Homo sapiens: one gene and its partners. The protein of the gene in region 1 interacts with the protein of each later gene in a biochemical or structural test. Each region holds a gene or a part of one and is shown in the gene's direction. Other genes may lie near its edges. The genes, in order: UBE2H, UBR2, EPS15, GID4, TRIM21, MARCHF1 and UBA1.

Region 1 (3,500 bases):
TGATTAAATGGATTCCTTTTAAGATGGTTTTTTTGGTAAAAATGTCTCATGGCAGGCTGCCTGGAATATCTGATGTAATGATGTGTTTTCTTAAACTACATTCACATCTTAAAAATGTACATATCAAAATACTGCAATCTGGTTCCAATTACAATGAAGTAAATTGATGTTTAGTTTTGCTAAAGCTTTTACCATTGACCAGAAAAGCTTTGTGAAAGATGTTTGCTGACTGTCAAGTACTTCATGTCTCAGAACAGGTTTTTTAAAAAAATAACAGTTTCACTGAATTATAATTCACAGACATGCAAATCACCCATTTAAAGTGTGTAATTCAGTAGTTTTTAATACATTCAGTTATATGCAGCCATCACCACAGTCAATTTTAGAACATTTTCATCACCTCAAAAATAAATGTGTACCCTTTAACTATTCGCCCTAGGCAACCACGAATCTGCTTTTTGTTTCTGTGGATTTGTCTTTTCTGGACACTTCTTAGAAACGTAATTATATAATATGTGGTCTTTTGTGACTGTTTTTTTTTTCACTTTGCATAATGTTTTCAAGGTTGATCCGTGTTGCATGTATCGGAAGTTCTTATGGCTGAATAATATTTCATTGTGTAGATAAACCACATTATTTGTCAGATAATAGACATTTGGGTTATTGCTGTCTTTTGGCTATTATGAGTGTTATAAATATTTGTGCACAAGTATTTGTGTAGACATGTTTGCATTTCTCTTGGGTATATACCTAGGAGTGAAATTGCTGGATAATATGTTTAACTATTTGAGGACTGATAGACTACTTTGTAAAGTGGCCAACATGAGTAAGTTTTCATCACATTTATAAAATGTTAGTGTACTTACATTAGCTTGCAAAGCATTTAATAAGCAGCAAGAGTTAAACCACGTTGGTCCAAGTGAACTGAAAGCAGACTTCTGTGTTACATGTGTATGAGTTACTGAACATGTTCCATAATACAGGAGTGTGAGCACACTAACAGGTAAGTGCAGGAAAACAAGAAGAAATATTTTCAGAGTATAGTCAAAAGTACACTGAGCATGGGAGAATTGTTTTGACATTTTGCTCAAAACTATTTCTGAAGAAAATTCAACATTTCTTTCACGGAAAGTTTTAGGAACAGGTAAATACAATTATATAAAGTACTGGTAGAATATGTTCGTTCAGATGACCTTGAAGTGTTTTTTCAGACTTATCTGAACTTGAGATCTGAACTGAATTTTTATTAGAAACTGTTAAAGCCTCTGGCATTGAAGGTTAGTTCATAATTGGTGAGTTCTGAATCACTTCATTTCCTGCAGTGGTTCCTGAGAGAATCTTAGTTCAAAGGACTGCCCCCGCCAACCCCTGCCCCGCCAAAAAAAAAAAAAAAAAAAAAACTAACACTAAATAACTAATAGGAGAAAGTTGGCGTGTCAACATAAATATTCAACTGAAAAGCAAAAGGCTAAGCCTGGCACCTAAAACTTGTTTCAACACTTTCCTCTGCTGTAGATTCGATGAGGGAGCAGGGAGTGGATTGTGAAATTTCCTGCCATTTACCTTGCCCCAGGACATGTACTGTTCTGTGGGTATACATATTTGTAGCGTAACAACAATTCACAGTTGAAATTTCAGATGTATGTTAATCATAGCCTGATATTAAACAACATTCATGTTAGCAGTAAATTTAGTCCTCTGTCCCCTCACACCCTTCCCCGCCATTGATTTCTGGTAAGCCAGTTGACTCATTGCTTCTGTTCTTATCCTGTTTTCTCTTTGCCAAGTGTATGTGCAATTTGTTTATTCAGAGTTCAAAATTGGTATAATTGTGGTTTACTCACCCAGTAATTTTTAATTTTGTATTATTTAACCTTACAAGAGAGCTAATTATAGTGAGGAATCGGATTAATTTTGTAAGATGCTTGCCATCAGTATGAAGTTATCAAGTATGAAGTTATCTATTGTTATTGTTATGACATTAAACAGAAAGTAGCAGATGACCAAAGTGATTTTGGCTTCCTGCATGATAGCATCTTTTTTTTTGCATCCCTTCCTGCTCTTCCAGACAGCAGTGACAGAAGCTCTGAGAAACATAAAATGTAGCCAAGGGGATCTGGATTTCCATTTCAAAACAAATTAATTTTAAGGACTGATAGGAGAGTTCATTAAGCCACAGGTAGCTTTTTAAGCACTCTTCTATTTTCCAGTTTTCCTTTTTTTCTCCAAAATATATTTTATCTGTAGTTGGCTTATCACCCTGCACTCCTGGGGGCCCAGGTGCCTTCACTGCGATACAGCTTTAATCTCTCTCTCATCCCACCCTTCTGGACCAGGCATGCTTGATCCCTGCAAATGTGTTTCTCTCTCCAGCTTTCATTTTACTCATTCTTTGACTGCCTTCGTAAATTATTTATATGATGGATTAAGTTGTAGGCTGGGCACGGTGGCTCATGCCTGTAATCCCAGCACTTTGGGAGGACAAGGCAGGCGGATCACCTTAGGTCGGGAGTTCGAGACCAGCCATAACCAACATGGAGAAACCCCATCTTTATTAAAAATACAAAATTAGCCAGGCGTGGTGGCGCATACCTGTAATTCCAGCTACTCGGACAGCTGAGGCAGGAGAATTGCTTGAACCCGGGAGGCGGAGGTTGCAGTGAGCCCAGATTGCACCATTGCACTCCAGCCTGGGCAATAAGAGCAAAACTCCATCTCAAAAAAACAAACAAAAAAAAAAGTTGTGGAGAAGTGAGGTGGAAGACAATTTTCTTATGAAATTGGGCAGTTTACATTTTCACTCTTAGGGTTGCTAGCCAGTGGACTAGATACTTCTACTCTTATTTTGCTGGAGAGAAAAATCAACATTTGGGAAAAGTCTTCCCCTAGAGTTATCTGGGGAGTTAGTAACAGGCAAATAAAATTGACTACAACAGAAGGAATACTTCAAGGACTTTGAGATTAGGCAAGAGATACAAATTTTTTTTTTTTTTTGAGACGGAGTCTCGCTCTGTCGCCCAGGCTGGAGTGCAGTGGCACGATCTCAGTTCACTGCGAGCTCCGCCTCCCGGGTTCACGCCATTCTCCTGCCTCAGCCTCCCGAGTAGCTGGGACTACAGGCACCTAAAATTTATTTTACCAGGCATTTAGAAATTTAAAATACAAATTTAACACTTATCCCATCCCCTTTTCAGTTAGATAGTCTGTGAATCTTCCCAAATAATTCAGATTTTGGCAGAAGGTATATCTTAAAATAATGCTTTATGCTGGATTAGTGCATGCTGTTTCCTAAACATTTTAGTGTAACTACACAGATAAGAAATACATGTATGTGTCTTCATGGATGATTAATTGGCCAACTACTATTTGAACAGCTTGAGAACTTCAGTATTGATCTGTCCATGTTGAATCACAAACGTCATCCTGCCTTTGGAACAGCTGGATGTCATTATTTGTAGATAGAGGCCAAGTAGAGCAATTCTGTCCAGTACTATTGGGAT
Region 2 (3,500 bases), on another chromosome or scaffold:
AAAATTGAAGTCTTTTTTTTTTGAGATGGAGTCTCACTCTGTTGCTCAGACTGGAGTGCAATGGCACAATCTCGGCCCACTGCAGCCTCTGCATCCTGGGTTCAAGCGACTCTCCTGTCTCAGCCTCCCGAGTAGCTGGGATTACAGGTGCATGCCACCGTGCCCAGCTAATTTTTGCGTTTTTAGTAGAGATGGGGTTTCACCATGTTGGCCAGGCTGGTCTCAAACTCCTGACCTCAGGTGATCTGCCCATCTCGGCCTCCCAAAATGCTGAGATTGCAGGCATGAGCCACCATTCCCGGCCTAGATACATTTTTTAGCCTGGGCATTCACATTCAGTTGGTCAGCAGAGTCTGACAAATTCTCACCATTCCTTCTTCTACTTGTTTGGTTCAGCCCCATATTATTTCTTGCCTAGATTATCATAGCAGTTTTTACCCAGAATCTCACTCTTCTCTAATACGTTATTAGAGGGGCTCCTCAAAAGCAATCCTGTTCATATTCTTCATACTTTTACAAACTTCTTAACCTATTTCTCCATTATCACCTCCTGCCAGTTCCCACCCCTGTGGTCCAGACTTGTAGAATCACTGCCAGTTCCTCAATGCTAGTTCCCATGCCTTTGCACATTCCATTTCCTCTGCCTAGAGTACCCTAAGCAGACTGCTACTCTTTCAGATGCTGTTCAAGCTTTCCCTTCCCTTAGAAAGCCCTCTGAACCATGTACTGTGAGTTAGAGACCTCTCATCTGTGATGCCTGCCTCCTTCCCCACTTTCTTCCTTTCCCACCCCAGGACTTTAAGCTCTTTGAGAGCAGGAGGGGGAGAATGGGTTTTATTTGAAGATCTTCAGAACCAAGACCTAGTGTATATAGTAGGACCTCAATATTTATTGAACCAAACATTACAGAAAATTTGGAAAATGAAAAAACAAGCAGGAAGAAAAAAGTCATCAACTTATCACATACCCATCTTTTTCCATTAGCATATTTATGCTTGATTACAATTGGTACTCACATGTAGCTTTGTTTCTGCTGTATTCTTTAAATCAAGAGTTTTCTTATTACTGCTACTTAGTCCTCATAACAATTTTTAATAGCTGCAGGCACCCTCATTTGTACCACCATCTTCTTAGACAGTTTCCCCAATATTTGGAGTATCTCTTTAGGATACTCTACATTTTACGGAAGAGTATCCACATTTTAGAGGATCTCTTTAGGATAAACATAAGAGATATGTGTTTTAGGGTATCTGTTTAGGATAAACATAGAGAAATACTGCATCCGCATCTTGGCTTGTTTATTTGTTTTTTGAGATAGAGTCTCGCTCTGTTTTCCAGGCTGGAGTGCAGTGGTGTGATCTCAGCTCACTGCAACCTCTGCCTCCAGGGTTCAAGTGATTCTCCTTCCTCAGCCTCTCGAGTAGCTGGGATTACAGGTGTGAGCCACCACACCCGGCCTGCACTGGCATCTTGGGAGTGTCCCTTGCTTTCTGTCAGATGCGTATATTCTATATTCTTTTCTTTTCCAGAGAAAACCAGCAACATGGTGGCAAAGAGATAGATTTCATTTATTCAGCACACACTTAGACATTTCCCATTCCATTTATCCTGTGTTAGAGGCATGTCATTGAGATGTCATAGATCTAGTTCCATACCATCTAGAGCAGTTTCATTGTGCATCCAGCTGTGCTCTGAACTAGCATTCCTGAAAGAGAACTGCTTTGCATTTTTGTTTTTTGTTAATTGCGTTGGTTTATTTTAGGATGACTGTCTTAGGTCATTGACGAGATTTGCCGCAGCACACTGGACAGTGGCATCAGTTTCAGTGGTGCAAGGACATTTTTGTAAACTTTTTGCATGTGAGTATTAATACATTTATAACATGTTGTAATTTTTCATCCTCTGAAATTTTGTTTTTAATGGTACAGCTTCTCTCAGTAATGAATTAAATATTTAGTAGTACTGGTTTTCTTATATATAAGCTCTAGCTTATAAATTCTCATGTGTCTTGCAAGAAGATAAATTTAAAGCAGATTATATGCATTTTAACATGTTGGCATATGAAATATGCTAATGTATTTCTCTTTAAATCTGTAGCACTGGTGCCTAATGACAGCCATGAGGAACTTCCATGCATATTAGATATTGACATGTTTCATTTATTGGTGGGTATTGTGCAGTTTGTTTGGACTTCTACGTCATACTATGTAACTTTACCTTAGGTTTGGTGAGCAGTGTAGTGGCAGACAGGAAGGAGTTATGTGATTTCCTTACCCCTTCTGAGTATAATTCTTTTATGAGAAACCTCAAAAAGAAAATATTTAGGAACCTAGTTGAGAGACTTGACCTGGTTATCGAGACGTCCTCTGACTCTTATTTTGCTTTATGGCTGAGGTTAGTATTTTAACCTCTCTGTGCTTTTAACCTGTAAAGAGATAAAAACACCAGCAACGGGTCAGGTGTGGTGACTCATGCCTGTAATCCCAGCACTTTGCGAGGCTCACCCCAGATCACTTGAGGTCAGGAGTTTGAGAGCAGCCTTGCCAACATGGTGAAACCCTATCTCTACTAAAAATACAAAAAATTAGCTGGGCGTGGTGGCACATGCCTGTAATCTCAGCTACTCAGGAAAGTGAGACAGGAGAATCACTTGAACCCAGGAGGCGGAGGTTGCAGTGACCAAGATTGCATGACTGCACTCCAGCCTGGATGACAGAGCAAGACCCCATCCAAAAAAAAAAAAACAGCAACAGAAGCACTGCTGCTGGCCCATACAGTGCTTTTGTACATTTTCGAAAATCTGGCAGATACAGCCCTGTGGTCACACTACTTAGCAGCAGAGAGCCCCTTATAATTCAGGGAAAGGTATGTCCTCTGAGCCAGGACATCCTAGTGCTAAGACACACAGCTGTCCAAATAGTGGGTAGCCAAATTTCAGCCCTACCTCAACTGGGTTCCCTTGCACAGGGTACAGAGTGTACTGCCACACCCAGCAGCCCCGAGTGCTGTGCCTTTATTCTCTGGACCTCAGATTCTGCCCCTTTAAGTTGGTTAGTACCTACTTTATATGACTATGTCAGAACTCAGTGAGTTAATCCATGTAACACACTTAGAGCAATATATTCCTAATAAATGCGGCTATTACTGTTCTCATTGCTGCAACTAAAACCACCACCACTTATACTGCCATGCAGACAGCAGGAGGCCAACAGAGCTAGCATTTGTGTACCTGCCAGCTTTTACATACGTTCACACTTACATCTCTACAATTTACATGTAACATATTGTCTTTAGTTTACCAATAGGGAAACTGAGGCCTGATCAGAGATATTAATTTGTGTAAAACAGCTCATAAGAGGAGGAGGTAGGATTCATATCTAGATATTTATGGGTCCAAAACCCATGTTTTTTCAACTGCCTACAGTCCTGGAGAGAGTTCAGATACTGTTTTTGTTAACAATAAGCTATGTATAGAGGACCCACTGGATTAATGAAATCAT
Region 3 (3,500 bases), on another chromosome or scaffold:
TAATGAATTGTTGCTTTACTTTTACTTCTTCTTTTTTTTTTTTTTTTTTTTTTTGGTGTTTTTTGTTTTTGAGACAGGGTCTTATTCTGTCACCCAGGCTGGAATGCAGTGGTGTGATCATGGCTCACTGCAGCCTTGACTTCCTGGGCTCAAGCAATCCTCCTGCCTCAGCCTCCTGAGTACCTAGGTCTACAGGCTCATGCCAGCATACTTGACTGATTTTTTTTTATTTTTTGTAGAGACAGGGTCTCACTGTGTTGCCGAGGTTGGTCTCGAACTCCTGGGCTCAAGCAGTCCTCCTGCCTCAGCCTCCCAAAGTGCTGCGATTACAGACAGGTGTGAGCGACTGTGCCCGATAGCTTTACTTTTTTAAAAATGACATTAGTGTTTAGACTTTGGTGCTTTAAATATTTATTCTGATTCCTCCTTACTAACTAAAGGTTTGGTGAGCATAATGATCTATACTGCTTCAGGGTTTAGAATGTAATTTTGTTTTCCTAAGATTATAGCCCACACGTGTGATTAGAGGCAGAGAATCTTGAAGAATTACTAAAACATCAGGCTTTTTGAGATATTCTTTTTCTGGGAATTTTCATTAGAATAATGCAAATCTTGTTTACCATTTAGTTTTGCATCCCAAACCTGTTCTAAACTATTGGCTGTTAGCTTTGAGCTCAGAGAGAAAAATACATTTAGAAGTTTTTATTGTGTTTTCTTTAGTTACGGTAGCGTAGAATAAGGGGACTTAAAATTGGATCCCTTGAAATTATATGTTAATTTTAAAAATAAGTTTATTAGGTGGAAGGTTCTGTATCTTTTATCAAAATTGCAAAGGAGTCTGTGAAATAAAAAGTACTCAGCTTAGATTCTACAGTATTTCAAACTGTCTTTTTGGATTTTTTTTTTGAGACAGTCTTGCTCTGTTGCCCAGGCTAGAGTACAAGTAGTGCGGTCTTGACTCACTGCAACCTCCGCCTCCCATGCTCAAGCTATTATTCTCATGCCTCAGCCTCCCGAATAGCCAGGATTACGGGCGCGCACCACCACGCCTGGCTAATTTTTGTATTTTTAGTAGAGACAGGGTTTCACTGTGTTAGCCAGGCCGGTCTTAAACTCCTGAGCTCAAGTCATCCGTCTACCTCAACCTCCCAAAGTGCTGGAATTACAGGTGTGAGCCACTGCACCTGGCCCAAACTGTCTTTTTGTTTGTTTGTTTTTGAGACAGGGTCTCACTGTCACCCAGGCTGGAGTGCAGTGGCAGATCTTTGCTCACTGCAGCCTCTGCCTCACAGGTTCAAGTGAGTCTCCCACCTCAGCCTCCCGAGTAGCTGGGACTATAGGTGCGCACCACCATGCCTGGCTAATTTTTGTGTTTTTTAGTAGAGAGGAGGTTTTGACATGTTGGGCAGGCTGGTCTTGAACTCCTGACCTCAAGTGATCTGCCTGTCTCAGCCTCCCAAAGTGGTGGGAATGCAGACGTGAGCCACTGCACCTGGCCCCAGACTGTCTTTTAATTAAGGCACTGATCATACCTTCAAGTGATGGGAAATTTAGTGCAATAATTTTTTTTTGTCTCTTATATTCGTGCCTTATTTTTTTAGATCCATTTGGTGGTGATCCTTTCAAAGGTTCAGATCCATTTGCATCAGACTGTTTCTTCAGGCAATCTACTGATCCTTTTGCCACTTCAAGCACTGACCCTTTCAGTGCAGCCAACAATAGCAGTATTACATCGGTAAGTGGGAGAATTAAAAACTGTTAAGTTAAATGGATAATAAGTGTCCTAAGCAAGTTTCTTGAAATACATAGTGATGAAAGAACCCTCATTTAGATTACTTCTAATGGACCATATAAGAATTTCAGTCTCATCCCAATTCATTTAGTTTTTGGTTCAGACTGGTATTTCATAGTTTGATTACCCACTGGAATTAACTGGAATGACTGAACGGAGTCCAAAAGTGATGTTCATCTTTCAAGAGACTAAATCTTATCCTATTGAGGATACTAAAAATGATTGGAAATTTATAAGCCAATCTTACATAAAACTTTTCTGAAATGTTTGGTATATTATTGAAATAATGAAAATTAAAAGAATTTTAGAAAAATAAAATCGTTTATGTTATTTCATAGACACATCTGGAATGTTAATTCTGCAAAGTACAAATTCTCACTAAATGTCAAGCTCTCTTGAGAATGTACATACCTACAGCAATCACTGTTTAATAACCACATGCCTGATCCAGGTACTGGTGTGTGCTTTACATTCATTGTTTCTAATCTTCACATCAATTTTGCAAAGTAGGTGTTGATATCCCTATTTTAAAAATGAGGACACTGGGACTTAGAAAAATTAACATGTTTAAGGTCCTATAGCTAGTTGCTGTTTTATCTGGAGGCTTTAAAAAAATCTTCATGGCTGGGCGCGGTGGCTCACGCCTGTAATCCCAGCACTTTGGGAGGCTGAGGTGGGCGGATCACGAGGTCAGGAGATCGAGACCATCCTGGCTAACACGGTGAAAACTCGTCTCTACTAAAAATACAAAAAATTAGCCAGGCGCGGTGGTGGGTGCCTATAGTCCCAGCTACTCAGGAGGCTGAGGCAGGAGAATGGCGTGAACCCGGGAGGCGGAGCTTGCAGTGAGCCGAGATCGCGCCACTGCACTCCAGCCTGGGTGACAGAGCGAGACTCCGTCTCAAAAAAAAAAAAAAAAATCTTCATCTTGTGGATATTTAGAAATACTCAAAGGAGAATAATGTAATGAAATATTTTAACAAGCTTCCATGCATCCATTACCCAATTTCAATAGTTAGGAATGGTTTTGCAGGTTTTTGGTTTTGCTTTTTAATTTGTATTTTGAGACTTCGTTTTTGAGACCACAGTTTCATGTCTGTAGGTAAACTGAACCTATAAAGGACCAGTTAACTGAGAAGCATTTGAAGCAAAAAATTTGTCTTCTAGTACTATTAGATTAAGAATATTTCCTTTAAAATGTAATTGATTATTTTAAAGATAATAGGTTTTGTATTATTGAAAGTTGCTTCTTTTTTGTATTCAGTAAAGAGCTGCTTGGCTAAGAACTGGTGTTTTCCATTGAATAAAAACTGGACAGATACCTTCGTGACTGAATATTTTTCGTTTCCCTGGGCTGCTGGATACTCTGTTTTCCTATAGCACTTAGTTTGCAATGTGGACCCATTTGCCAAATTCTTCTAAAATTGCTGCTACTGGAATTCTTCTCCTCTCACCTTCTTATTCTAGCCTCTCATTCTCCTATCATCTAAAGAGCAAGAAAGCTAAATTAGCTCTTCTAATTTAAAAATGAATACATTCCTCTTGTCCTGTCCCCCATGAGATTTTTCTACCATTTGTTTTACTGACTTTTATTCCCAGTTTTCTAAAGGAATATTGTCCTTGCTTTACAGCTTGTAATTTCACCATTCAAAACAAAAAACCAGATTGGCAATATAATAATAGCTGCAGTTTATCTAATTTCCTCTGT
Region 4 (3,500 bases), on another chromosome or scaffold:
CCCTATGTATCAAGGTATTCTAAGACTACCTTCAGGGACCATTTGTATAGTTCATTACTAGAAGTTTCTCTGAACATGTAGAACACTGAAAAAAGTATTTACTTTTTTTTTTTTTTTTTTTTTTTGAGACAGAGTTTCACTCTTATTGCCCAGGCTGGAGTGCAATGGCGTGATCTCGGCTTACTGCAAACTCCGCCTCCAGGTTCAAGCAATCTCCTGCCTCAGCCTCCCGAGTAGGTGGGATTACAGGCATGCGCCACCACGCCCGGCTAATTTTGTATTTTTAGTAGAGATGAGGTTTCTCCATGTTGGTCAGGTTGGTCTTGAACTCCTGACCTCAGGTGATCCTCCCACCTCGGCCTCCCAAAGTGCTGGGATTACAGGCGTGAGCCACCATGCCTGGCCAAAATAAAAGGTATTTTAGGCTGGGTGCGGTGGCTCACACCTGTAATCCTCGCACTTTGGGAGGCCAAGGCGGGTGGATCACCTGAGGTCAGGAGTTCGAGACCAGCCTGGCCAACATGGCGAAACCCCGTCTCTACTAAAAATACAAACATTAGGTGGGCGTGGTGGCAGCCAACTGTAATCCCAACTACTCGGGAGGCTGAGGTAGGAGAATCACATAAACCCAGGGTGTGGGAGGAGGTTGCAGTGAACCGAAATTGTGCCATTGCACTCCAGCCTGGGCGACAGAGCAAGACTCTGTCTCAGGAAAAATAAAAAAGTATTCTACCCCAGAATCCACCCTGGAACCTTGGAGAATTGGTGTAAAAGGGACAAATGACTGAGCCAGTTGGAGAACCAGTGGCTTGAGGGAGCCTTAGTGGTAGACACAGTGATTTTGGAGCCTCTTTGGGTCTAACCTTGGAAAGTAAAATCTACCAAGTTATGATCTGCTTTGTATGCTAGAATATTAAAAATTTATTTGTGGAAACATCCAAATTATTTTCTAAGAGACTAGCATGTAACAATTGAAGTCAAAGAAGGGCTGTCTGCTGCTGGCAAAATCCAGGAAACCCTTCATTCTCTGGGTGATTTAGATTCAGGTCCATTGCCACAGCCTGTTGGCAAACTGGCTGCGATCTAACTCTGGTTTGGATTGTCAGGTAGCAGTGTCTAGGTACTGGAAAGAAGTTAAAGCAAAGTTTATTTTTCCTTTGTACAAAGGTTAAAAACTCTCACTCAACATCTTATTTTGATATTTGGGTTTTTACCATAGGAGTATCCAACCCTTACAACCTTCTTCGAAGGAGAAATAATCAGCAAAAAACACCCTTTCTTAACTCGCAAGTGGGATGCAGATGAAGATGTTGATCGGAAACACTGGGTGAGTAAATCTGATCTGTGCTGGGTCATCTAGGGGCTGCTAGAGAATTGAAGAAATGCTGGGAGCCAGAGACCTTGTCCCTTATTGAGGATTACTGGGGCTTTGCAACCAAGTAAAAGGTTGCACTGCACACAGACCTCAGTTGTTCCATCTTCCTTATGAGGACAGTTTAAATACGATCTGACCTGCTGCTTAAATAGCAAATGGTTGTCTGATGATAGCAACCCCAGAGTTCCAGCCAGAACTCTGCTCAGCTATCAGAATCTTAACAGTGTCCCCCCATCCTTCCCACCTGTTTGTCCATCTTCTGTCCACTGTTCCTTTCAAATCACCTCTGCTTGGGGAAAACCCTGTGAAACATGCAATGATGACCTCCGGCTTCGGGGCTGGCATGAGATGGAGATGATGTTGTGGGAATCTGCCTGCCCACTGGCTTATCAGGGCAGAGCCACATCATTTCTTTTTATCCTGGCTGCTGACAGACAAGTATAGTCTTGTCTTAAGTACACCACTATAAATCCTGCTGCCCCCCTTTTTAACTGTCAAGTGTAGAGCATTCTCACTCAGCAGTAGTGAATGCTTCAAGACAGTTAGTGTCCTGGGATCTTTTCATTTGTTGTCATATAAGTACCATGTCTTCAAAAATCAGTGTCTCGGCTGGGCGCGTTGGCTTGCGCCTGTAATCCCAGCACTTTGGGAGGCCGAGGCGGGCGGATCACCAGGTCAGGAGATTGAGACCATCCTGGCTAACACGGTGAAACCTCGTCTCTACCAAAAATACAAAAAATTAGCTGGGCGTGGTGGTGGGCACCCGTAGTCCCAGCTACTCTGGAGGCTGAGGCAGGAGAATGGCGTGAACCCAGGAGGCGGAGCTTGCAGTGAGCCGAGATTGTGCCACTGCGCTCCAGCCTGAGCAACAGAGTGAGACTCCGTCTCAAAAAAAAAAAAAAAAAAATCATTTTCTCAACCTAATAGCCTTTTGCTTTAGTTGACCATGGTGATGGTGAATTTTTGTTTAACATTGAAGAAGTTCAATGGGTTTACCCTCCATAAACCAACCAGAAATGGCTGTGTCAGTAGCAAAGATTCTAGAACTCGTTCTTCCCATTGCCTCTCACACCTGGCTATCTAAACTCTCCCCTGGTTCTGGCACAGCAGTCTGTGGAGAGAACTCCCGCAGACCCTTGTCTTGAGTTCACCTCACTAGAGATCAGTTGCTTTGCTTACTAATGTTTTTTATTTGTTTATTTTATTTAAAAAAAATTTTTTTTAGAGTTGGGGTCTTGCTCTGTCGTCTATGCTGGAGTGCAGTGGCATGATTATAGCTCACTATAGCCTCAACCTCCTGGGCTCAAGTAATCCTCCCACCTCCGCGCCCCAAGTAGCTAGAACTACAGGCACGTGCCACCACACTGAGCTCATTTTCTTTTATTTTTGTAGAGACAGAGTCTCCCTATGTTACCCAGGCTGGTCTTGAACTCATGATCTTAAGTGATCCTCTTGCCTTGTCCTCCCAAAGTGCTGGGATTATAGGTGTGAGCCACTGACCCAACCTGTTTTTTTGGTTTTTCTTTTATGGGGGTTTTTGTTTTGTTTTGTTCTGTTTTGTTTGGTTTGGTTTTGAGACAGAGTCTCAGTCTGTCACCCAGGCTGGAGTGCAGTGGCGTAATCTCGGCTCACTGCAACCTCTGCTCACTGCAACCTCCGCCTCCCAGATTCAAGTGATTCTCATCTCTCAGCCTCTCAAGTAGCTGGGATTACAGACGTGCACCACCGTGCCTGGCTAATTTTTGTATTTTTAGTAGAGACAAGGTTTCGCCATGTTGGCCAGGCTGGTCTTGAACTCCAGGCCTCAAGTAATCCTCCTGCCTTGGCCTCCCAAAGTGCTGGGATTACAGGCGTGAGCCACCATGCCCAGCCCCAAGCTGTTTTTTACTTGAGTAAAAAAAGGAGATCTATCAAATACTGAGGTTCAGTTAAATTTAAATTTAAACTTGAGCTTTTTAAAGCGTTTTTTGAATTCTATACATTTTGATTGTTGTAGCAAATGGACACTAAAAACTAGACAGTCATTTGTGTCTCTCTGTGATACAAGAGAATGCACAAGACCTGAGTATCCAGAAGGTTGGGGGAGCCCAAGTGGTGTATGAAGGTGCTGGCCACCAGCAGGTGG
Region 5 (3,153 bases), on another chromosome or scaffold:
TGGGTTACTTTAGCTCTACAGTATAATTTGACGTCAGATGATGTGATTCCTCCAGTTTTGTTCTTTTTGCTCAGGATAGCTTTGGCTATTCTGAGTCTTTTGTGATTCCATATAAATTTTAGGATTGTTTTTTCCTATTTTTGTGAAGAATGTCATTGGTATTTTGATAGGGATTATGTTGACTTTTTGTTTTTCTTACACAGACTTTCTCATATTCTCTTTTCCCTTTCTTCTTCTCTCCCAGCCAAACCCCCTAAAGGTCTCCACACTGCTGTTTAACGGCACACTTGACAATGGCTTCAGCAGCACGCTTGACAATGATGTGGGAGGAGGTCACATGCCCTATCTGCCTGGACCCCTTCGTGGAGCCTGTGAGCATCGAGTGTGGCCACAGCTTCTGCCAGGAATGCATCTCTCAGGTTGGGAAAGGTGGGGGCAGCGTCTGTCCTGTGTGCCGGCAGCGCTTTCTGCTCAAGAATCTCCGGCCCAATCGACAGCTAGCCAACATGGTGAACAACCTTAAAGAAATCAGCCAGGAGGCCAGAGAGGGCACACAGGGGGAACGGTGTGCAGTGCATGGAGAGAGACTTCACCTGTTCTGTGAGAAAGATGGGAAGGCCCTTTGCTGGGTATGTGCCCAGTCTCGGAAACACCGTGACCACGCCATGGTCCCTCTTGAGGAGGCTGCACAGGAGTACCAGGTGAGGCCTAAGAGACACCTGGTGAGTGCTTCGTTTTCAGAGCAGGGAATGGGAGAGGACCACCTCTGGATTGGAGGGGTTAGAGAAAGGAGGGGTTTACCTCTCTCCATGTCTAATGTAGGAGGAGAATTATAAGTTAAACCCAACCTCATTCCCCAGGCGTAGGAGATATGCATGAGAAAATGCTGCAAGGATTACCCCACCCTATTACTTGGTTTGCATGGGGGACGAATAAGCTGTCTTTCTCTGCAGGAGAAGCTCCAGGTGGCATTAGGGGAACTGAGAAGAAAGCAGGAGTTGGCTGAGAAGTTGGAAGTGGAAATTGCAATAAAGAGAGCAGACTGGAAGGTAAGAATGACATCCTGAAGGAGATCTTAGGCTGGAAGGCTGGGCAGGGTCCAGAGTCCTCAACTCACAGCCTTAACCGTAGCTGTGCCTCTCTGAGCAGTGATAGAGTTGGTCCGTCTCACTCTCCAGAAGCCAGCTGCTCTCTAGGTTTACAAATAGAGGGGAATAAAAATGATGCAGGTTCAAAGGGGAGCTCCCCATCAGGCCTGAAGATCAAGAATCCTGGAAGAAGGTGCTGAGAGGATCTAGCTATACCCTAAAGTTTCGAGCTCCTCTGAGTCTAGTCTCAGAGGTGTGATGGCGTCAGCACCTGGATGTGTGAGACAAATATCCTAGTAGAAACCCAACTGCTAGCTAAGCCTTTCAGGAAATGACAAGGGCTGTGAGGAATAAACTTAAGGAAACCATCTGACCAGGTGGTTACTTGACCATGACCAGATCTCTGGTCCAAAATATAATGAAGAATCAATGTTTGTTCTGCACTGATGATTTCCTAGGAGAGGTGGGGCATGTCAGGGATGAGAGGGGAGAAGAAGGAGCCCATCCCCAGTAGATCACAGAAGAGGAAGATTTGGGATTGAGGTAGGGTGTGAGTTGGGTTGTGGTGACAAAACAGACCCTCATGTGTCATCGAGTGACCTTCCAGTTACTAACAGGAGAGGAAAAGCAAAGAATGTCCCCAAGCCCCCTTTCCCAGGACTTAGAGGTGGTGGCGTGAGCCTGGCTTTGTGAGGTTGTTGGAGGTGGGAACAGGTGATTTTTTTCTCAGTAACTCACTGAGACAGGAAGACACAGGGGCACATTTGAGTGGTGACTGGGCTTGGAAGAGAGGTTGGAAAAAGTCCCCAATGCCATATATTCGTGTAGCTGTCGTTGTAGGCCAGCTACAGTGTGCCCTCACCAAGTCCATTCCCCTCACTGTCCCAGAAACCTCAACCACCTACCTCCCAAGCAAAATTGTGTGTGTGTGTGTGTGCGCGCGTGTGCGTGTGCATGTGTGTGTGTTTTCCCAGACAGCACAGAGTGGAGTCTCTTGGGGATAGGAATAGGTACCAATACCTCCATTCCCAAAGCTTGGGAGATTTTCATAAAAACCACCTCTCCCTTTCCCTTGACACTAAAGAAAACAGTGGAAACACAGAAATCTAGGATTCACGCAGAGTTTGTGCAGCAAAAAAACTTCCTGGTTGAAGAAGAACAGAGGCAGCTGCAGGAGCTGGAGAAGGATGAGAGGGAGCAGCTGAGAATCCTGGGGGAGAAAGAGGCCAAGCTGGCCCAGCAGAGCCAGGCCCTACAGGAGCTCATCTCAGAGCTAGATCGAAGGTGCCACAGCTCAGCACTGGAACTGCTGCAGGTGAGACAGGGAGGGGTTTCCTTCTACAATTCAGGGAATAACTGAAAAAGACCAGAGCTATCTGGAACTGCCATTTGAATAAATGGACACCTGGTCCCTGGAATGTTCTTAAATGAAGTAGAATTCAAACCCATGAAAGGTTCGCGTTCAAGACGCAAAGTAAAGATGAAAATAAGTACAGGACCTTTTTAAAAATCAATTTATGTTGCACTTAGAATCATCTTGCATCCACCAATGATATGTTTGCCTCACTGTAGGAAACTATGGACTAGATGGTCTCACAAGTCCCTTCTGTTCTAACATTCTACAGCTCTTTTCCCACACCTGTTCAGTGTCACTCAGAGTGGTCATGAGCCATTGCTTTCAGGTTTGTGCAGAAAACCTAATTGTATTGGGTTGACTTGACAGGCTCTCTTCTGCCCAACATTGAACCAGGCTTTCTATTTATTTATTTATTTATTTATTTATGAGACAGAGTTTCACTCTTGTTGCCCAGGCTGGAGTGCAATGGTGTGATCTTGGCTCACTGCAACCTCCGCCTCCCGGGTTCAAGCGATTCTCCTGCCTCAGCCTCACATCACCACACCTGGCTAATTTTGCATCCCTAGTAGAGATGGGATTTCTCCATGTTGGTCAGGCTGGTCTCAAACTCCCAACCGTAGGTGATCTGCCCCCCTCAGCCTCCCAAAGTGCTGGGATTACAAGAGTGAGCCACTACACCTGTCTGTAAACCAGGCTTTCCAACACACT
Region 6 (3,500 bases), on another chromosome or scaffold:
AAGTTTACTAAGAAAGGCACTGGATGAGAGAAATCAGGCAGCTGAGGATGACGATAAAATAAATAGAGGTATAGATCATGAGCATTTATTGTGCAAGACTGCAGCAAATTTTAGGCACAATAAACTCCATTGGGCATGGCTAAAAAGAAATGGAGTGTTTTTGTGCAATAGTTTCCATAAATATATCATGCATACATTACCAATTTCCAAATACCTAAATGCTCACAAACCCATCTCTTACTCGAAGAAATTCTATAAACTGACCTAGACACAGTGATGAATTCATGGAACTAATCTCTCAAGTAAGGAGCTAATATATATAAATATATATATATATATTATATATAAAAGACTATTTTTGGAGCAGATTTAGGTTAACAGAAAAATTACAAAGAAGGTAAAGAGAGAGTTCCCACATACCACCCTGCACATACACAAGGTTTCTCCTGTTATTAACATCTTGCCTCAACGTGGTACATTTGTTACCACTGAGGAGCCAATATTCTTACATTATTAAAGTTCATAGTTACATTGGGGCTCACTCTTTGTGTTGTACAGTTCTATGAGTTTTGACAAACGTGTAACGTCCTGTGTCCACCGTTACAGAATCATACAGAATGGTGTTGCCGCCTTAAAAAGTCCCTGTGTTCCACCTATTCATCCCTTCCTTTCTCCTCCTAAACTGTTGGCAAACACTGATCCTACTATCTCCAGTTTTGCCTTTTCTAGAATGTCACATAGTTGGAATCACGCAGTATGTAGCTTTTTCAGACTGACCTCTTTTATTTAGCAATATACATTTAAGGTTTCTTCGTGTCCTTTTGTAGCTTGATAGCTCATTTCTTTTTAATCACTAAATAATACTCCATTACATGGATGTATCACAGTTTATTCATTCACAGATTGAAAAACCACTTGGTATTTCCAGCTTTGAACAAATATATGAATAAAGCTGCTACAAACATTTGTGTGCAGGTTTTTGTGTGGACGTAAGTTTTTGTTCATTTGAATAAGTATAATGTTGTATCATTTGAAAAGCTGTGGTTACCATTGTAAAAAACTGCCAGACTGTCTTCCAAAGTGACTGTACCATTTTGCATACCTATCAGCAATGAATGAGAATTCCTGCTTGTCGTTCCACATCCTTTCCAACGTTCAGTGTTTTCAGTGTTCTTTTTTAAAACTTTAGCCATTCTAATAGGTATATAATGATATCTTGTTTTAATGTGCAATTCTCTAATCACATATATTAATAATCTTACCATCTGTTTATCTTCATTGATGACATATCTGTTCAAATCTTTTGCTCATTTTGTAATTAGGTTATTTTCTTATCATTGAATGTTAACAGATCTTTGTATATTTTGGATACAAATCCCTTTTTCAGAATATGTTTTGCAAATATTTTTTCCTGTGGCTTTTCATTCTCTTAACAGTGACTTCCTCAGAGCAAAAGGTTTTAGTTTTAATAAAGTCCAATTGATCCATTTTTCTTTTCATAGATCATACTTTGGTCACCTGAATTTTCTTATCTTTTAGAAGCTGTATAGTTTCACAGTTTACATTTAGTTCTATAATCCATTTTGAGTTAATTTTTGTGAAAAATTTAAGGTCTGTTTACAGACTCATTTATTCGCATGCAGATATTGTTATACCAGCACCCATTTGTTAAAAAGACTATCCCTTCTCCATTGAATTGCCTTTGCTCCTTTGTTAAAGATCAGTTTCCTATATTTGTATCAGTCTATTTCTGGGCTATTCTGTTTCAATGATTTATTTCTTTATTCTTTCATTGATACCACACTGTCTTGATCACCGTAGTGGTAGTAATCAAGGATAGTGTCAGTTTTCAAAAACTTTATTCTTCCACTTCAATATTGTGTTGGCTATTCTGGTCTTTTGCTCTCCATATACACTTTAGAATCAGTTTGTCAATATCCATAAAATAACTTGCTGGAATTCTGAATGGGATAGTATTGAATCTGTAGATCAAACTGGGAAGAATAGATATCTTAATAATATAATATTAAGTCTCCCTATCCATAAATGTGGAACATCTTATTTCATTCAGATATTCTTTTATTTCCTTCATCATAGCTTCATAGTTTTTCTCACATAAATCTTGTACATATTTTGTTAGGTTTACACCTAAGGTTTTTGTTGTTGTCATTGTTTTTGTTTTGTTGGCACAAATGTAAATGGGCTTATGTTTTTAATTTCAAATTCTGGTTGTTCACTGCTATATATAGGAAAGCAATTGACTTTTTGTAAAACTTTGTATCCTGCAACATTGTCATAATCACCTATTTAAAAAAAAAACTTAATCAGTTCTTTGAGATTTTATACATAATCATATCATTTGTGAACAAAGATAGTTTTATTTATTCTTTCTCAATCATCTTTTATTATTCTTGTTTTATTGCATTAGCTAAGACTTCCAGTGTGATGCGGAATAGGCATGGTAAGAAGGAACATCCTTGTCTTGTTCCTGATCTTAGGGGGAAAGCATCTAGTTTCTTACCATTATGTCAGCTATAGGTTTTCTATGTTCTTTATCGCATTAAGGAAATTCCCTTCCGTTCCTAGTTTTTATCATGATTGAGCGTCGTATTTTGTCAAATGTGTTTTCTGCACTTATTGATATATTCACATTTTTCTTTAGCTAATTGATGTGATTACATTGATTTCTGAAACTTGAACCAACTTTGCATACCTAGAATAAATCTCTATTGGCTGTAGTGTGTAACTGTTTTTATACATTGTTGAATTCAATTTGCTAATATTTTGTTGAGAATTTTTGTATCTGCTCATGAGAGATACTGGCCTATAACTTTTCTTCATAGTAATTGTCTTTGCCGAATTTAGTATTGGGTAATGCTAGTCTCACCCGATTAGTTAGGAAGTATTATCTCTTCTATTTTCTGGAAAAGACTGTAGAACATTGATGTCATTTCTTCTTTAAATGTTTGGTAGAATCCACTAGTAAAACTATTTGAGCTTGGTGCTTTCTGCTCTGAAAGGTTATGGTTGATTTAATTTCTTTAATAGATCTAGGGATATTTAATTATCTGCCTATTAATTACACCTGCCACTGTAATGATCTCTTATTTCTCCTGTGTGAGCTTTGGCCAATGATATTTTGAAGTATTATTTCCATTAGGATTAAGTAAATATTCAAGATGATGACTACTATGAATTATTCAAGTCATAAAGAAGTCCTTGCGTATTAGGAGTTAGTTAGAAAAAATTTACCTTTGCTACCGGTAAAGGTTCTAATAAATTTGATTGCATATATTTAATCTACTCAAAAACTAAGTTCAGATTTGATTGCTGAAAGAGGCATAGAAATTTATTTTAAATTGACAGTGCCAAACAGAGCAACAAATTAATGAAACATCAACAACAGTGAGAGGCTTTTCATGTTTTCTTACAATCCCTTTTAAGATCAGAGAACATTTTTTCCCCAAAAATTTCAAAGGAAGAGTCAGAGCCAAAGCATT
Region 7 (3,500 bases), on another chromosome or scaffold:
ACCTCTGCCTCCTGGGTTCAAGCGATTCTCCTGCCTCAGCCTCCTGAGTAGCTGGGACTACAGGCATGCGCCACCACGCCCGGCTGATTTTGCATTTTAAGTAGAGACAGGGTTTCTCCATGTTGGTCAGGCTGGTCTCGAATTCCCGACCTCAGGTGATCTGCCTGCTTCAGCCTCCCAAAGTGTTGGTATTACAGGCGTGAGCCACCACACCTCACCCCTCCTTTTTCTTGTTCCCATTCTTTCTGTCAGAGATCTTTCTGCCTCTGCCAGAAGCCCTTCTTTTTGGCCTTTCTTTCCCTCAGCTTCTGTTTTTTTTTTTTTTTTTTTTTTTTTTTTGCCTTAACCTCTTTTTAGTGCTGGTTGGGACAGTGTGTCTGGGGTCCTCAAAACTACTCTCAAGCTCAATTCACCTAGAGTACTTACAGGACTCAGCATATAGTCGTGCTTGTGGCTACAATTTATTACAGCAAAAGGATACAGACCAAAATCAGCAAAGGGAAAAGGCTGGTGCAAGTTTCTAGGAGTCTTCTCCCAGCGGGAGTTAAACAAGGCGGCCTTTATTTCCCCAGTAGCAACAGTAACTACAGAAATAACAGCAACAAGGTGTAACAAGACATGAAATGTTGCCAACCAGGGAAGCTTGTTAGACTCAGCACCACCTCTTTTACTTGGGGCTGGTCATGTAGGCGCCCCCTTCCTGGCACATAACAAAATTTCCAGACTCCCAGAAGGAAAGGTGTTCAGCGTAAACTGTATTGTTTGCATGAACGGTTTAGGCACAGTGAACCACTGATACCAGGTAGGGAGCGGTGGGAACCTTCCTGAATTCCAAGTTCCCAGACACCAGCCAAGGAGCCGACCTTGGAAGCAGGCCTTTCCAAGGGTTGTAGTTTCAGTCTCCTAGGCTTACACTTCTCTGCACATATGGAAACTGGGTTGGTTATGCAGGGTTCTCTGAGAAGCTTTCTGTAAGGAGCAGTGTCGTTTTTGCTTACCCAGGATTTATTCCCCCTTTCATTTATTTCATTTATTCACCAGATAGTTTTAGTACTGTTTTAGGTATTGGGGATATACCAAGGAATAAAACAAGATTCCTGGAGGGAGAGGGGAACGGACAGCAAACAATAGACACAATACGATCGTGAGGTATATAGTTAATGTTGGTGATGAGTGCTCCTCAAAGGAAACAACTAAAACCAGACAAGGGAAGTCGGGGTGTCAGGGAGAATGGTTTGTAGTATTGATGACAATGGTTAAGGAAGGCCTGAGTTCTGCAAAGACCTCAAGGATATGAGGGACTAGAGTGCCCTCTGCTGTGGAAGAGCCTGCGCAAAGATCCTGAGGTGGGAGGGGTCAGGGAGCCAACTCATTTTACGGTAAGTGGAGGTGGGATCCAGGGGAGGATTCTGAGCAGAGGAGGGACGTGGCCCAATTTGGGCTTTGAAAGGATCCTGCTTGTCTGTGTGCCAGCATCCTGGTGGTGGTTGGGGGAGTCTGCATCAATCCTGGGTGCTGTTACCTGAAAAAATAGCAGGTGTTAGACGAAAGAACAGATGTCTGGCCCATTGTCTCCAGTCTGTTCCTGTCCACAGCTTCCCTTTATGCTGAGCCCCTGCCACATGCATCATCATCCTGGCCATGTGGCATTGTCACAGACCGTCTCTCCTGCTAGCCTCCTAACTCAGGGCCTGGGTCTTCCCCAGCATTAAGTAAATCAGTCTCAGGCAGACAGCCCTTTATAGGTGTTTGGGCCAGGTGCGGTGGCTCACGCCTGTAATCCCAGCTCTTTGTGGGGCCGAGGTCTTTGAGCTCAGGAGTTCAAGACCAGCCTGGGCAGCATGACAAAACCCTGTCTCTACCAAAAATACAAAAATTAGCCACGCATGGTGGCACACACCTGTGGTCCCAGCTACTCGGGAGGCTGAGGTGGGAGGATCGCTGGAGCCTGGGAAGTTGAGGCTGCAGTGAGCCGTGATCATGCCACTGCATTCCAGCCTGTGTGATGGAGAGAGACCCTGTCTCAAAAAAAATAAAGATGTTTGTTGGGTGAATGCACAAATAAGTGAGCTTTGTTCCCCCATCCCCACCCTGGAACTGCACTTTCTTAACCCTTTAGAAGTTAAAGTCTGACACGGCTGCTGCAGCTGTGCGCCAAATGAATCCACATATCCGGGTGACAAGCCACCAGAACCGTGTGGGTCCTGACACGGAGCGCATCTATGATGACGATTTTTTCCAAAACCTAGATGGCGTGGCCAATGCCCTGGACAACGTGGATGCCCGTGAGTTTGGAGGCGGGTGAGGTGGTCACGGGCAAAGTTGTGTGTGTTTCGGTGTGTATATACCAAGAGGGGTGTCCGTCTTTCTGTCCTCTCCTGATGTTTCTTTCCTAGCTCTCGCTTTGTGCTCCCCACAGGCATGTACATGGACCGCCGCTGTGTCTACTACCGGAAGCCACTGCTGGAGTCAGGCACACTGGGCACCAAAGGCAATGTGCAGGTGGTGATCCCCTTCCTGACAGAGTCGTACAGTTCCAGCCAGGACCCACCTGAGAAGTCCATCCCCATCTGTACCCTGAAGAACTTCCCTAATGCCATCGAGCACACCCTGCAGGTGATAAGCTGTGGGAGAAGGGAAAGAGGCCAGGCATCTGGCCAGGCTGCTGCCTCTCCGCCCCCAGGCCCTTGCCTTGCCTTCAGATGTTGCATGCCTAAGTGTAAGATGTGCCTTTTCTCCAAACCTCCCTCCCTCACTTCCCACCAGGCAGCCTAGGTTTCTAGAATGACTCATTCTTTTTTCACTTTTATTTTGATTTTTTTTTCAACACATAGACAAATATTAAGAATATTATGATGAATACTCAAATACCATTCCTCACCTAAATTTAACAATTCTTAATGTTTTGCCACATTTTCTTCTTAGATTTATGTAGATTTTTCTTCTTTGTGCTTAAATGTGTCACAGACATCACAGCCCTTTACTCCCTACTATTTCAGTGCCTCTGCCAAGTGAGGATATGTTGCTGTAGAACAGGGTTTCTTAGCTTCAGCACTACTGACATTTGGGGCTGGTTATTTATTTGTCATGGGAGAGGGGATGCCCTGTGCACTGTAGGATGTTTCTCAGCATTCCTGACTTCTGCCCACTAGATGCCAATAGCACTCTCCCTCCATCATGACATCTCAAAATGTCTCCAGACATTGCCAGATGTCCCCAGGGGTGCCACATCACTCCCAGTTGAGAACTACTTCTGTCTAACAGAAACATCATTTTCATGCTCAGCAAAATTAACAATCATTCTTACCATCTCTTCTAGTTATTTATTTGTCTCTAATGGTCCATATTCAGGTTTTCCCCAGCTGTTACTCAAAATGAGTTTAACAGCTGGTTTGTCAGGATGATTCTGTGTGTATGGTGCATTTATCTACAGAACAGTGCATATATTATCTAGCTCGGGGTGTCCAATCATTTGGCTTCCCTGGGCCACATTGGAAGAA

Evidence for each region.
Region 2: the proteins of UBE2H (region 1) and UBR2 form a complex in vitro, tested with the Homo sapiens proteins (one study listed by BioGRID).
Region 3: of the proteins of UBE2H (region 1) and EPS15, one has a biochemical effect on the other in vitro, tested with the Homo sapiens proteins (one study listed by BioGRID).
Region 4: the proteins of UBE2H (region 1) and GID4 form a complex in vitro, tested with the Homo sapiens proteins (one study listed by BioGRID).
Region 5: the proteins of UBE2H (region 1) and TRIM21 form a complex in vitro, tested with the Homo sapiens proteins (one study listed by BioGRID).
Region 6: the proteins of UBE2H (region 1) and MARCHF1 form a complex in vitro, tested with the Homo sapiens proteins (one study listed by BioGRID).
Region 7: of the proteins of UBE2H (region 1) and UBA1, one has a biochemical effect on the other in vitro, tested with the Homo sapiens proteins (3 studies listed by BioGRID, with this or other methods).

What each region holds. Positions count from the first base shown.
Region 1 is NC_000007.14:129,851,961-129,855,460, reverse strand, and holds part of UBE2H (ubiquitin-conjugating enzyme E2 H), read left to right. Parts: intron 1-3,500. UniProt on the Homo sapiens protein: Accepts ubiquitin from the E1 complex and catalyzes its covalent attachment to other proteins. E2 ubiquitin conjugating enzyme that transfers ubiquitin to MAEA, a core component of the CTLH E3 ubiquitin-protein ligase complex.
Region 2 is NC_000006.12:42,672,029-42,675,528, forward strand, and holds part of UBR2 (E3 ubiquitin-protein ligase UBR2), read left to right. Parts: intron 1-1,762; coding exon 1,763-1,859; intron 1,860-2,097; coding exon 2,098-2,165; intron 2,166-3,500. UniProt on the Homo sapiens protein: E3 ubiquitin-protein ligase which is a component of the N-end rule pathway.
Region 3 is NC_000001.11:51,397,267-51,400,766, reverse strand, and holds part of EPS15 (epidermal growth factor receptor substrate 15), read left to right. Parts: intron 1-1,601; coding exon 1,602-1,735; intron 1,736-3,500. UniProt on the Homo sapiens protein: Involved in cell growth regulation. May be involved in the regulation of mitogenic signals and control of cell proliferation. Involved in the internalization of ligand-inducible receptors of the receptor tyrosine kinase (RTK) type, in particular EGFR.
Region 4 is NC_000017.11:18,052,908-18,056,407, forward strand, and holds part of GID4 (glucose-induced degradation protein 4 homolog), read left to right. Parts: intron 1-1,219; coding exon 1,220-1,327; intron 1,328-3,500.
Region 5 is NC_000011.10:4,387,550-4,390,702, reverse strand, and holds part of TRIM21 (E3 ubiquitin-protein ligase TRIM21), read left to right. Parts: intron 1-244; 5' UTR 245-293; coding exon 294-701; intron 702-953; coding exon 954-1,049; intron 1,050-2,172; coding exon 2,173-2,403; intron 2,404-3,153. UniProt on the Homo sapiens protein: E3 ubiquitin-protein ligase whose activity is dependent on E2 enzymes, UBE2D1, UBE2D2, UBE2E1 and UBE2E2.
Region 6 is NC_000004.12:163,530,520-163,534,019, reverse strand, and holds part of MARCHF1 (E3 ubiquitin-protein ligase MARCHF1), read left to right. Parts: intron 1-3,500. UniProt on the Homo sapiens protein: E3 ubiquitin-protein ligase that mediates ubiquitination of TFRC, CD86, FAS and MHC class II proteins, such as HLA-DR alpha and beta, and promotes their subsequent endocytosis and sorting to lysosomes via multivesicular bodies.
Region 7 is NC_000023.11:47,203,829-47,207,328, forward strand, and holds part of UBA1 (ubiquitin-like modifier-activating enzyme 1), read left to right. Parts: intron 1-439; exon of another isoform or gene 440-2,033; intron 2,034-2,119; coding exon 2,120-2,285; intron 2,286-2,419; coding exon 2,420-2,616; intron 2,617-3,500. UniProt on the Homo sapiens protein: Catalyzes the first step in ubiquitin conjugation to mark cellular proteins for degradation through the ubiquitin-proteasome system.